2 separate regions of the Homo sapiens genome follow, and region 1 is linked to region 2. Evidence: fine-mapped expression QTL. Tissue or cell type: CD4 T cells. Region 2 holds a variant in brackets; the other region holds the start of a gene. All regions are shown on one strand. Distances are between the middles of the regions.

Region 1 (2,606 bases), 56 kb before region 2:
AGTTAGGAGTGACTGCTCAGTGGGTATACTGTTTTATTTTTCCGTGAAGAGAATATTTTGGAACTAGATAGAGGTGGTGGATACACAACATTGTGTCTGTACAAAATGCCACTGAATTGTTGACTTTAAAATGGTTAATTTTATGTTGTGTGGATTTCATCTACCCAAAAATAATACCCTTTCTTTGCTCAATATCCTGCAATGGATCCCCAGTTGACTCAGAGTAAAAGACAGCGTGCCTTCAAGGGCCCCGGAGGTCCCACCTGATTGGGTCCCTCTTATCTCTCCTCTCCCTCCCACTCACTCCATTCCAGCCACACTGGCCCCCCTGCTGATCCTCGGAGGCGCCAGGTGGCCTCCTGCTAGGAGCATTTGCTCCAGCAGTTTCCTCTGCCTGGAACACTTTCCGCAGGTATCTGTCCAATTCTTCTAACTTCCTCATCTTCTCCTTACCAATCCCCTGGGGACAATAATTCTCAGTTTCCTCTGTATTCTCAGTTTATCAATTTTTCCTGTTCTAGCGCTGGATTACAACTGCTGGTCTCCCTGCCTGCCTTCCCTGCTTCCCAGAGCACGAAGAAGCTTGCCTCCGCAACCCACTATTTGTGTGACCTTGGTCCAGGAACTGGACTGGGCTCTCCTCCTGAAAGTGGGTAAATAATGTCACCGACCTAATGAGGCTGTTGAGGCATGGAATCTGATCAGGCAGATAAAGTGCCCCTGGCAAACCTCAATTTTCTGTTTCTCAACAAAGCTTTGGCGACTTATAAGAATTTGCGGGAAAGTGTCCAGAACCCGGAGTCAGGAGCCCTGACTTCTAGCCCTGAAGGGCCGCGTGACCTTGGCCAAAGCCCCTAATCCTTCTCAGTCTCAGATCCGGGGGCTGGAAACTGAGGAGGTTCTCCCGGCAAGCCCCTCGGGCTAGTGACATTCTAAGATTCCAAGAGCTAAGGAGCTAGAGGGGTGGGGTGGAGGAGGGAGGCGGGCGCGCCGGATTGGCCTCTGCGCGCCACGTGTCCGGCTCGGAGCCCACGGCTGTCCTCCCGGTCCGCCCCGCGCTGCGGTTGCTGCTGGGCTAACGGGCTCCGATCCAGCGAGCGCTGCGTCCTCGAGTCCCTGCGCCCGTGCGTCCGTCTGCGACCCGAGGCCTCCGCTGCGCGGTGAGTGGGCTGAGGCTGGAGAGGGGAGTCGCTCTGGGAACCCCTTCCCGGGGGCTGCAGGGACACAAGAAATAAGCGCCCAGTCATCGGCTGATGGGTACCCCCCGCCAGGAGCAGGGACGGGAGGGCGCGGTAACCCGAGAGTGTCGCAGACTGGGTGTGTCTGGGGAGCGCAGCGGAGCAAATCTGGGGTCGGGGCGGAGAGGCGCGGGCGGAGGGCGCCCTGGCTAGGGGGAGGGGAGGGAGTCCCGTTGCTGCAGAGGGTCTGGTTGAGGGTCCTGGGCGCCGGAGCTGAGCCAGGGGCTGGTCCTGCCGGCCTTAATTTGGGGGGGCTCAAGAGACTTTGAAGGTCCGGGGTTGGGGTCAGCTGGACGCCAGTCAAAGGACCCGCAGAGAAGGGTGTGGCTGAGGCCCAAGACTGAGAGCAAGAGCGTTGGACCCTCCAGCTGCTTATAAAATGGCTTGTGTGTGGTGTCGGGGGAGGGCTGCCTGCGTGCAGAGAGCTGAACGTCCGGTCGTACATACCTCAGGGCCTCATTGGACCCCATCCCCTTTGGGCCACTGCTTGTCTATGAATGCAGTCTCCCAACGGGGCTCCGAGGCCTCCTATGGTGAGGCAGGGGCACTACCCTTCTTTCTGCATCCCCTAAGCGGTCTAGGCCTTCCCAAAGTTTGGGGGCTTCAAATAATTCCCCATATACCAGCATGGGAGCAAAATACCCTGAATCGGAATCCCAGCCCCTGTTGCAGTGTGACTTTGGGCGGTGGCTTTCCCTCTCTGAGCCTGGATTTCCTTCTCCAAGTCCATAGTTGAGAAACCCAGTCTCTTTCAAAGGAAACAATGGCTTTGAAAACTGATTTATTTGTCAGCTGTATGGAATGATTGCAGGTTTGGGAGTCTTGATTATAGATTTGGGAAGCCTGGCACAACCCTTGTAGGCCCTACAAGGGGAAAGGGCAGGAGGTCCTTTGGGACAACTAATCTGGCCACGGCTTCCTGCCTCCTCCTTCCTTTCCCTAGATTCTAGTGGGTCTTCTCTGACAATTCCAAATTTGGACATATGGCTCCCGGGTTTGTGAAAGGACTCTGGTTTCCCCCCAAGAGTCCGCCCTTTTCCCTCCATTATTCCTTCCCCCTTGCCCAAAACATGCTTGGGATTGCTTCCACTGACCCAGATGGCATATCCTGACCTGCGTAGCCCTTCATGGTGAAGTGAATGACCGCCCCAGTTTCAGCCCCTGTGGACCCTGACCTCCTAGCAGGCAGGCCCTGAGCCACGCCGAGGGCACTGGCCTGGGGTCAGAGGAAAGCCCGGTTACAGTCCGGATGTGCTGGGACTTCTTGAGCAAGCCCTTTCTCTAAGGCTTTGTGCCCCATCTGGAGCAAAGTCTGCTGAACTGGCTGCCACTGCCAGTGCAGACATTCTAGGATTCAACTGTTCTAAG
Region 2 (2,758 bases):
TCACTATGCCTGGCTAATTTTTGTATTTTTAGTACAGACAGGGTTTCACTGTGTTGGCCAGGCTGGTTGCTAGCTCCTGACCTCAAGTGATCCACCTGCCTTGGCCTCCCAAAGTGCTGGGATTACAGGTGTGAGCCACCACACCTGGCTGCGTCTGACTTTTTTGACATATGGAGCTTATATTTTTGCTCTTTGAGATCAGCCAAGATCTTAAAGTCTGATGCTTGGTTCTACTTGGCTAACGAGACTATGGGCATCTCAGAGGCAGTCTCTTACAGACTTAGTAGGAATGTAAGTAAATTGTTGGCACATTTTGATACTATATTATGTTTTAAAATCATACATCAAAAAATACAAGGACAAACAAAATCCCGAAAACCATGTCTCATAACAATGATAGGAGTCCCTCAGAAGGGAGATCCATACCATACCATGGGTCAGGAAGTTTGGCCTCCCCAGTCTGAACGTATACCAGACCACTGTGATGTGTGGTGAGCGTGATGGTGTTTGTACCCATTCCCAGCAATGGCTTGGCAGTTAGCACTCAATGTTGTTTGTTCAAATAAGAAATCACCTAACACGATATGCCAAGGGCCATGGGGGAGGGTATCAGCAGAGTGCCAGGGGAACCAAGGGAGGCCAGAGTTCACTGTGCCTCCTGACGCAAGAGAGTGGCCAGAGTGCTTCTCAGAGGAGAGGGCCCTGCTGGCAAATGGGATTGGGGGTGCACAGGGGCATGTTGGACAGGGGAGTGACAGGTGGAGAGAGGACTGAGATGCTCCTGGGGGAAAGGAACAGGTGAAGCTGCAGAGCTCTGCACAGGTCAGATCCCAAAGGGCCTTGAAGCCAGGCCGGGAGCTTGCATATCTTCCTGGGGATAAACAAAAGGGACGTGGTCACATTTATGTGTCTGGGAGATCCCAGTAGCCTACATGTGGCATGGGATCCTATGTTGGTCATGGAGAGAAGCCGAGGGAGATGTCCAGACAGATGGGCAGCCGGGAGGAGGGGGCATTGAGACTGGAAGGACTGTTTTCACTCACTCTGCTCTCTGCCTCTGCCAGGGTGACACCTCCGGAGACTTCCTGAAGGCCTTGCTGGCTCTCTGTGGTGGTGAGGACTAGGGCCACAGCTTTGGCGGGCACTTCTGCCAAGAAATGGTTATCAGCACCAGCCGCCATGGCCAAGCCTGATTGTTCCAGCTCCAGAGACTAAGGAAGGGGCAGGGGTGGGGGGAGGGGTTGGGTTGGGCTCTTATCTTCAGTGGAGCTTAGGAAACGCTCCCACTCCCACGGGCCATCGAGGGCCCAGCACGGCTGAGCGGCTGAAAAACCGTAGCCATAGATCCTGTCCACCTCCACTCCCCTCTGACCCTCAGGCTTTCCCAGCTTCCTCCCCTTGCTACAGCCTCTGCCCTGGTTTGGGCTATGTCAGATCCAAAAACATCCTGAACCTCTGTCTGTAAAATGAGTAGTGTCTGTACTTTGAATGAGGGGGTTGGTGGCAGGGGCCAGTTGAATGTGCTGGGCGGGGTGGTGGGAAGGATAGTAAATGTGCTGGGGCAAACTGACAAATCTTCCCATCCATTTCACCACCCATCTCCATCCAGGCC[G/A]CGCTAGAGTACTGGACCAGGAATTTGGATGCCTGGGTTCAAATCTGCATCTGCCATGCACTTGTTTCTGACCTTAGGCCAGCCCCTTTCCCTCCCTGAGTCTCTATTTTCTTATCTACAATGAGACAGTTGGACAAAAAAATCTTGGCTTCCCTTCTAACATTAACTTCCTAAAGTATGCCTCCGATTCATTCCCTTGACACTTTTTATTTCTAAGGAAGAAATAAAAAGAGATACACAAACACATAAACACATTTCCAGTGAGGGCCTCTGTCTTCTACCTAGAGCCTGCAGCCTGGATTTTCCTCATTAGAGCTTGAGGTTGTAAAGTCTGTCCAGGAGCGAGTTACGTCTTTAAATTCTTGCAAGGTGTTTCCCGGGAAGCGCACAGGAGAATCTGAGTTTGCAGCAAGCCTGGGAAGGCTGGCCCAGCCCTGCTCCGGGCCTCAGGTTCCCCCTCATCCCCTCTCGCTGTCTGGACATTTCTGTATGCTCTTCATCCATTTCAACCAAGCCCAAACTTCCTCTTTTGAACTATGCAAGGGTGCCCGATGTGATCTTGATCTGGAGAGGTGCATGGAAAGTTTCCTTCATGCAGGTCACTGATAAGCAAGTAGGCGCAACTGCAGTTCCTCTGCCTTCCCTCCCCCGCTGCCCTACTTCTGGTCTGTGGCTTTGGTCTAAGATTGTCCAGTGACCATGGCATGGGGCTGGCTGCTGGCCAAAGGGCACTTCTCCCTACCCTGGCTGACCAGACTAGTTTATTGCAGGTTAGCGCGTGTTTGTTTTCTTTTCTTTCTTTTCTTTTTCTTCTTTTTTTTTTTTTTTGAGATGGACTTTCGCTCTTGTTGCCCAGGCTGGAGTGCAATGGCATGAATTTGGCTCACTGCCACCTCTGCCTCCCGGGTTCAAGCGATTCTCCTGCCTCAGCTTCCCGAGTAGCTGGGATTACAGACATGTGCTACCACACCTGGCTAATTTTGTATTTTTAATAGAGATGGAGTTTCTCCATGTTGGTCAGGCTGGTCTCGAACTCCTGATCTCAGGTGATCCACCCGCCTTGGCCTCCCAAAGTGCTGGGATTACAGGCGTGAGCCACCGTGCGCGGCGCATGTGTTTGTTTTCATAGCTGTGAAGACAGCAACA

Evidence for each region. PIP is the estimated chance that this variant, and not a neighbour inherited with it, causes the effect.
Region 1: ANXA6 starts here. The variant in region 2 is fine-mapped to the expression of ANXA6 in CD4 T cells (CEDAR, PIP 0.95). The same link has a PIP of 0.9 or more in NK cells.

The regions. Positions count from the first base shown.
Region 1 is chr5:151,156,234-151,158,839 of GRCh38, reverse strand. ANXA6 (annexin A6) reads left to right here and starts at 1,061. Exons shown (of 26, transcript NM_001155.5): 1 at 1,061-1,160. RefSeq lists a silencer at 189-248 and an enhancer at 44-900.
Region 2 is chr5:151,099,814-151,102,571 of GRCh38, reverse strand. ANXA6 (annexin A6) reads left to right here. Exons shown (of 26, transcript NM_001155.5): 26 at 1,065-1,866. The coding sequence ends at 1,124. Among named protein-coding and RNA genes, the nearest start is that of TNIP1, 20 kb to the right of the region's middle. The variant G/A (reference allele first, on the strand shown) is at 1,613.